Regions from separate parts of the Homo sapiens genome. Here region 1 is linked to region 2. A link means that fine-mapping ties the variant in region 2 to the expression of a gene that starts in the linked region. Tissue or cell type: aorta. Region 2 holds a variant in brackets; the other region holds the start of a gene. All regions are shown on one strand. Distances are between the middles of the regions.

Evidence for each region. PIP is the estimated chance that this variant, and not a neighbour inherited with it, causes the effect.
Region 1: ALDH7A1 starts here. The variant in region 2 is the best candidate, but not a certain one, in a credible set for the expression of ALDH7A1 in aorta (GTEx, PIP 0.53).

Annotation. Positions count from the first base shown.
Region 1 is chr5:126,593,205-126,597,446 of GRCh38, reverse strand. It overlaps ALDH7A1 (aldehyde dehydrogenase 7 family member A1), which reads left to right and starts at 2,228. Exons shown (of 18, transcript NM_001182.5): 1 at 2,228-2,440; 2 at 4,043-4,096. The coding sequence starts at 2,249.
Region 2 is chr5:126,542,372-126,546,613 of GRCh38, reverse strand. It overlaps ALDH7A1 (aldehyde dehydrogenase 7 family member A1), which reads left to right. Exons shown (of 18, transcript NM_001182.5): 17 at 215-290; 18 at 1,595-4,242. The coding sequence ends at 1,649. Among named protein-coding and RNA genes, the nearest start is that of ALDH7A1, 51 kb to the left of the region's middle. RefSeq lists enhancers at 2,167-2,216, 2,583-2,877. The variant A/G (reference allele first, on the strand shown) is at 1,717.

The DNA.
Region 1 (4,242 bases), 51 kb before region 2:
AGGGCATTGCAACTCCTTCGACGGTGTTATTCATTGGTTCATTTGTTCATATACTCATGTAAGTGAGCGTAAACTTGGAACAATGCTAGGAACTGTGGAGCAATGCAAAGATGAGTCAGAGATGGTCCTTGCCCTAACAGGAAAAAACTGTAGCATTTACAAAAGGAAGCATCATTCATGTATGCCTAGTACTAACTGCAGTTTCTGGTAGCTGCTTGATACATGCAGAGTGTTTGTTCAAATCATTTGTACTATAAGGGTGGAAGAGATAAAGCTTATGTTTGAATGCAGAGATGAAAGGGGCCAGGAGTGGTGGCTCAAGCCTGTAATCCCAGCTCTTTGGGAGGCGCAAGGCAGATCCCTTGAGCCGAGGAGGTGCGGACCAGCCTGGGCAACATGGGGGAACCCTGTCTCTACAAAAAATCCTCAAAAATTAGCTGGGTGTGATGGCATGCCTGTAGTCCCAGCTACTTGGGAGGTTGAGGTAGGAGGATCACTAGAGCCTCGGAGGTCGAGGCTTCAGTAAGCCATGATCCTGCCACTGCACTCTAGCGTGGGCAAGCATATTTTAAACTCATGTTCAAATAATGATGATTGAGATATTAGTATTTCCGTTTTACAGGGTAGGCCCAGTTGTTGTGAAATGAGATGGGGCATGCATGAATGGAAAGGATATTGTAGGAAGACAGAAATGGAGAATGAAAGAAATTGATCAAAACTGTCTTTATTCTTTAAGAGTAAGAGCTGGGCGTGGTGGCTCACACCTGTAATCCCAGCACTTTGGGAGGCTGAGGTGGGCGGATCACGAGGTCAGGAATTCGAGACCAGTCTGGCCAACATAGTGAAACCCCTTCTCTACTCAAAATACAAAAAATTGGCCAAGCGTGGTGGTGGGCGCCTGTAATCCCAGCTACGCAGGAGGCTGAGGCAAGGAGAATCGCGTGAACCCGGGAGGCGGAGGTTGCAGTGAGCCGAGATTGCGCCACTGGACTCCAGCCCTGGCAACAGTGCGAGACTACGTCTCAAAAAAAAAAAAAAAATGTAAGAATAGGCCGGACACAGTGGCTCACGCCTGTAATCCCAGCACTTTGGGAGGCAGAGGCGGGCAGATCACGAGGTCAGGAGTTCGAGAGCAGCCTGGCCAACAGGGAGAAACCCCGTCTCTACTAAAAATACAAAAATTAGCTGGTGTGGTGGTGTGCACCTGTAATCCCAGCTACTGGGGAGGCTGAGGCAGGAGAATCACTTGAACCTGGGAGGTTGAAGTTGCAGTGAGTGGAGATCGTGCCATTGCACTCCAGCCTGGGCGATAGGGCGAGACTCCATCTTAAAAAAAAAAAAGTAAGAGGCCGGGCGCAGTGGCTCATGTCTCTAATCCCAGCACTTTCGGAGGCTGAGGCGGGCAGATCATCTCAGGTCAGGAGTTCCAGACCAGCCTGACTAACATGGTGAAACCCCGTTTGTCCTAAAAATACAAAAAATTAGCCGGGTGTGGTGGTGCACACCTGTAATCCCAGCTACTCAGGAGGCTGAGGCAAGAGAATCCGCTTGAACCCGGTAGGCGGAGGTTGCAGTGAGCCGAGATCGCGCCGTTGCACTCTAGCTTGGGCAAGAAGAGCGAAACTCCGTTTCCAAAAAAAAAAAAAAAAAAAAAAAGTAAGAATATACCCAGGCAGGATATTTATAGAGGAAATGCAGCAATCTAATATTTATCATTAATTAGAAAACTTTAATTTGTAATCTACCAAAACAGTGAAAACAACCAACCCTTCCCCCGCCCCCCAATACAAACCCTCCGTTGCCTACTCCAGGGACAAGAGGCGTCACCATCGCTGAGGAGCTGGTTAGGAATGTCGGCTCTCCGACCCTAGCCCAGACTTACTGAATCAGAATGTGCATTTACCACGACGACCAGGTCATTACACGCATTTTACAGTTTCAGAACCCCTGCTATAGCCTACTGTACTTCAGCGCCAATATTTTGCTGAAAAGAATTCCCAGCTGGAACTGTGGCTCCCGGAGTCTTTCACCAGATGGCAGCAGCCCACTCCTCCCTGTAGCACTCCCATTGTTCCAGGCAGGATTCAGCCGCAGGCTCCTCCGGAAGACCAGGGGCAGACGGGGCGGTGGCGGGGTCGTGCCCAGTGGGAGGGGTCGGGTCTGCCCAATGGGTTCTCCCGGGCGGGGGGCGGGGCTCTATTTCAGCAGCTCTCAGGGCCTTGGGCTCATCCCGAGTCCCGGGCTCAGTATGTGGCGCCTTCCTCGCGCGCTGTGTGTGCACGCTGCAAAGACCAGCAAGCTCTCTGGACCTTGGAGCAGGCCTGCCGCCTTCATGTCCACTCTCCTCATCAATCAGCCCCAGTATGCGTGGCTGAAAGAGCTGGGGCTCCGCGAGGAAAACGAGGGCGTGTATAATGGAAGCTGGGGAGGCCGGGGAGAGGTACGCGGGCGCTCAAGAAATCTCTGCAGCCGCCGGGGCTCGCTCGAGGAGGCCGGGCGGGCACTGACCTACCGACTCCCCGCTGGCGCTGGATGCGGTAGTAGCATGGGAGATTTTGAAGCTCCACAGTAAAAGTTTTCTCGTGTAGGGTGCCTTTAAAACAAAAACTTAGATTTTAGGTCCTTGTGTGCTATGCAGAATCGACGTCATTTTGGAGCTGTAGGGGCTAAACTTCCCGCGCATATTTAAAACATTATGGTCTACCGGGCGCGGTGGCTCACCCCTGTAATCCCAGCACTTTGGGAGGCCTAGGCGGGCGGATCACCTGAGGTAGCGAGTTCAAGACCAGCCTGACCGACATGGAGAAACCTTGTCTCTACTAAAAAAAATACAAAATAGCCGGGCGTGGTGGCGCATGCCTGTAATCCCAGCTACTAGGGAGGCTGAGGCAGGAGAATCGCTTGAACCCGGGAGGTGGAGGTCGTAGTGAGCCGAGATCGTGCCATTGCACTCCAGCCTGAGCAACAAGAGCGAAATTCCGTCTCAAAAAAAAAAAAAAAAAAAAAAATTAAAACCTTATGGTCTTGGGATCTATGGTCTTGTGAGAAATGTGGCACACTGAGCGGTGCAACTGATCTTAATTTAGAGCTTAACTCTGGCTCTTCAGCTGTGACGTGCACCGCAGGTAACGTTCTTCAGTGTAGTTTTAAGTTATCTTCCTTCCTGAATTCTTTGGGAGTTTGCAAGCTTGGACGTGCCGAAATCTTGCCATGTTGTACGTTGGGCTGTGAACTCCTTTGAGGACTGGATTTTCAGCATTTCTCCATTGCCCAGGGCTTAACACCGCGCCTGATACCCATTACTGCTCAAAACAATGTTTTATAGAATACAATGGAAAGGTAAGGTTATTATCGCCCAGATTTTTTTTTAAAAGAAAGTTTTTTATAGGAGGATGTTATGTAACAGTTAACAAACTTTGTTGGACGTTGTATATTATATAATGAACCTGCCTTGGTAGAGGGAACACGTCTTTTGGTAATCAGTGGCTGTAGGAGATACAGATAATTTTAATTGCTCCTCAGACCTCGGTGTTTCATCCTGATTTCCGTGTGGTATCTGATCATTAGGCTCTTGGAGGCCTTTTTAGCTGTGCCTTGATTTTCCCTTTCATTGTTGACCTGAGACCTCTCCAGTTGGTGTGGACACGGGACTTTCCAACAGTTTTCCTGCCTTGGCCATTTCATCTCTGAGCAGAGGGTGGGCAGAGTAAGGAAGAGAAGAAATAACTAAAACTAGTCAGTTTGGTCTGTTATTAATGGAAAAAGAGACAAAATAACTGCTTATGTTAAGGCTTTTGTTTATATGCCTAATATTGAGATGTCAGAGGCGAGTTTTGCAGAAAGGTAGTTTCTAATGTTTAAGTCAGAAATGAAAGACAACCTCTGTAGAGTGGTTTATATGTAACAGAAGTTAACCTAAGCTTTTTGAGTTTGGGTATTATATCATTTTTTCCTCTCTTGTTTTTCTTCCCCGTTTGGTCTATTCCCTTACTTCAAAAGGGATTACGTTTTCTATACATGATCATCATCCTTTTGTTTTAAGGTTATTACGACCTATTGCCCTGCTAACAACGAGCCAATAGCAAGAGTCCGACAGGTAAGAGTGTGTGTGTGTGTGTGTGTGTGTGTGTGTGTGTGTTTAATTCAAATTATACACAAGGAGTTTGTGCAGGCTTTCTTTAGAGGCAGAAGCCAGTTAGGCAGGTCAAGAATAATATAAAATCACAAATGAAGAGAATAATG
Region 2 (4,242 bases):
TATTTTATTTTCCCTCTTAATTCCTTTTTTCTGTTTGTTTTGGTCTCTTGGTCTCTGTCTTTGATTTGTTTGCAGGGGAGATATTGTGGGCTAAATGTAAAGTAAATAATCAGGTTGTTCTGGTGTCCTTTTGGTATCTTCTTTTCATTGATACCAACTATGAGCCCACATGGAAACTGCTCAGAAGATATGATATTATTTTTTATTTCTCTAGGAGGAGAAAAGCACACTGGTGGTGGCAGGGAGTCTGGCAGTGATGCCTGGAAACAGTACATGAGAAGGTCTACTTGGTAAGAAAAGGCTTTGGGAAGATAGGTTTGGGCTTAAAACCCTTGGGAATGGGCTTTTACACTTTCCTACTGTCTGTGCTGTCTTTGTGCAGTGTCATTTGATTTGATTTTTCCAGCATTCCACAGCTGTCTCCTCTAAGTATCTATTTGGTGCTATTTTTCTAGCCTTCTTGTCTAGCTTCAGCTAGTGCCCAGCACCCAACAATGAAATGGTCTCGTGCGTGGTTTCTGTATTTTTAGTAGAGTTGGGGTTTCTCCATGTTGGTCAGGCTGGTCTCGAACTCCCGACCTCAGGTGATCCACCCGCCTTGGCCTCCCAAAGTGCTGAGATTACAGGCGTGAGCCACAGCACCCGGCTAATTTTTGTATTTTTAGTAGAGATTGGGTTTCACCGTGTTGGCCAGGCTGTTGTTGAACTCCTGACCTCAGGTGATCTGCCTGCCTCGGCCTCTCAAAGTCCTGGGATTACAGGCATGAGCCACCATGCTGGGCTGTTTCTTGCACTTTTGAGGGCACACTTTTTTTTTTTTTTGAGATGGAGTCTTGCTCTGTCACCCAGGCTGGAGTGCAGTGGCCTGATCTCAGCTCACTGCAGCCTCAGCCTCCGCCTCCCAGATTCCAGCGATTCTCCTGCCTCAGCCTCCCAAGTAGCTGTCATCACAGGCCTGCACCACCATGCCAGGCTAATTTTTGCATTTTTAGTAGAGACCGGGTTTCACCATGTTGGCCAGGCTGGTCTTGAACTCCTGACCTCAGGTGATCCACGCCTGCAGTGGCTCATGCCTGTAATCCAAGCAGTTCAGGAGGCTGAGGCAGGTGGATCATTTGAGGTCAGGAGTTCAAGACCAGCCTGGCCAACATGGTGAAACCCCGTCTCTACTAAAAATACAAAAATTAGCCAGGCGTGGTGGTGCACAGCTAATCAGGAGGCTGAGGCAGGAGAATCGCTTGAGCCTGGGAGGCGGAGGTTGCAGTGAGCTGAGATTGTGCCATTGCACTCCAGTCTGGGTGACAGAGTGAGACCCTGTCTCAAAACAAAACAAACAAACAAACAAAAACCACCACCAACAAAAAAAACCATGTATGGTATGTCTTTCCAGATTTTTATGTTTCTGTCTTTTTTCTTTTAAATAAAACGGGATCCATACTAACATTGTCTTTTATCTTAAAGGTTTGTCTTAAAAAGTTGTAACTTGGAGATCTTGCCTTGTTAATATATACAGATCTGCTACATTTTAAAAGTGGGCATGAAAATCTTCTGTTATGTATGTACTGTCATTAATTCTGTTATTTTTTCCCACTAGTACTATCAACTACAGTAAAGACCTTCCTCTGGCCCAAGGAATCAAGTTTCAGTAAAGGTGTTTTAGATGAACATCCCTTAATTTGAGGTGTTCCAGCAGCTGTTTTTGGAGAAGACAAAGAA[A/G]ATTAAAGTTTTCCCTGAATAAATGCATTATTATGACTGTGACAGTGACTAATCCCCCTATGACCCCAAAGCCCTGATTAAATCAAGAGATTCCTTTTTTAAAAATCAAAATAAAATTGTTACAACATAGCCATAGTTACTAAAAGATGAGTTAGGTGGATTTTTATTATGTCAACTAGTTGTACATGGCTTTTTAAAAGTTAATGATTATTTTGTAATTAGAAAAAAATAGTACGTACCAGGGTAGGAATTTGGGAAAATACAGAACCGAGGAGAAAACAGAAGTCTTTGCAGTAGATACAGGGTGTCTCCTGACCAAGTGAAGGATTCAGGGGCGGGGGGTGAATATTGCTTGACATTACCCACCTATGGCATGTGTTGGATGTCGTGTGATTGAAAGGGGGATGCATTCCCCTGTATGCTTGGACCACAGTTCAGTATTCATGTGGAATAACTTGCAGTGCTTAAAATGACAACAGGCATTCATCACAGTTATGGCTCTTGCTTATGAAGGCTGTGTCAACTTGGAAGAGATTTCTGGGGTAGACAGATTTTGTTCCTGTGCTGGAGTCTGCCACCTGCTGGAGGACTCTGAGGCCAAAATTGCCCGTGCAGAGTTGTATAGAAAATGCGTCTGGAGGCTGGGCAAGGTGGCTTACGCCTATAATCCCAGCACTTTGAGAGGCCGAGGCGGGTGGATCAGTAGAGGCTAGGAGTTTGAGACCAGCCTGGCCGATATCGTGAAACCCCGTCTTTACCAAAAAATACAAAAATTAGCCCAGTGTGGTGGCAGGCACCTGTAATCCCAGCTATTAGGGAGGCTGAGGCAGGAGAATTGTGTGAACCCAGGAGGCAGAGGTTGCAGTGAGCCTAGATTGTGCCACTGCCTGGGCAACAGTGAGATCCTGTCTACAAAAAAAAAAAAAAAAAAAAGTGCATCTGGATTTTTTTATACAACCTTAGACCACCTTCTTTAGCTTTAGGCGTCTGCGGTTGCCCTTGGATCTGTTCTCAATCCTCAGTGTGTGTGGCAGCATGTGGTCATAGAGAGCTGGGCAAAGTTCACTTTCTCTTTGCTGACAGTCTCACCTTTTCTCACTGGGAAGCTGCACAGGAGCCTTTGGGCTGGTTCAGCCCAGAGGCCCCTGTTCTCCTGCCTTCCTGGCATTCTCTGCTCCCCTTCTGCATGGCACCCCTCTACTCCTGCCAGGTTAGAATGGAGCAGAGGCCTTTGAACAAGATGACATTTGTAGACAACCTGATCCATCAGGATGTGGAGAGATCTGGACAAATGGCAAATAATTTGGGGTTGAATTATGGCCCAGAGAAGTAAGCAAATGAAAAACTAAACAATTATAAATGTATCTGGGAAGCAAAGGTATTCATAATATGTCCCATGGCCAGCTGCGAGCAGTATTTAACTAGACATGCTGTTGTCAATATTGAACATGAATCAAGCCAAATACTGATATAGCTATTGAGAGAAGGTTGGCAGGAAGAAATCATGGGTGAGGGTATGTGGGAGTGATAATCTTAGCTATAGATTTTAGGTAAAACTGATTCTGAAAGCTTTCTTTGAAACAAATTTATAATTTTTCTTCTACATGTTTCTAGCACAAGGACTCAATTTTTTTTGGTTATAATGTTCATTAAAACATATGCCTTCAATTTGTTCCTCTTTGTTCTTTTTTGCTGATTTAGCAGATATAAATCACTTGTTAGTATTTTTAACTATCCAAGTTAAAATGTACATTTGTAAGTGTTATTACTGGTCTTATATTTGAAGGTGCAAGGGGTCTTGTGCTGCTCATTACTGGTTATCTTGAGCATTTCATAACTGCTGCCTCCTCCTAAATCCTGTGTTCCAACCGCTACTGCTGGCAATGCCCAGCCTCCATTGTGGATGCGGGGAATTGTGTTCAGCATGCTTGCTTCTGCCACGGCACTAAAGCCTAACTTGCTTAGGATCTTGCTGTACTTGGAGAGAGCATCCATTCGCTGAGCCTAGCAGCCAGGCTCTTGTGACTCCCTGGGAAGTGGGTGAAGACCTGGCTCCTGGCTGCAGCAGTGAGGAGGCAGGCCCTCCAGGTGAAGACTTCTCACAATGGAGGGAAGGCAGTTTTCTCAAAGGAAATTGAGTGCTATTATGTACTCTGCTTCCTACTTTCTCTTTCAGGGTGGGAATCTGTTAAGCCTCCTCTCTCTCTTGCTCTGCAACCACAGAACACTTCTTTTTTTTTGGTGTCTCAGTTTTGCCCACACTGGAGTGCAGTGGTGCAATAGTGGCTCACTGCAGCCTCCAACTCCTGGGCTCAATCTATCCTTCCACCTCATGCTCCCCAGTAGCTGGGACTACAGGTGCATGCCACTGTGCCCAGCTGATTATTATTTTTTTTTGTAAAGATTGGGTCATACTACATTGCTCATGCTCGTCTTGAACTTGTGGCCTCAAGCGATCCTCCTGCCTCAGCCTCTTGAGTTGTTGGGATTACAGGAGTGTGCCACCATGCCCAGCTCTGTGGAAAA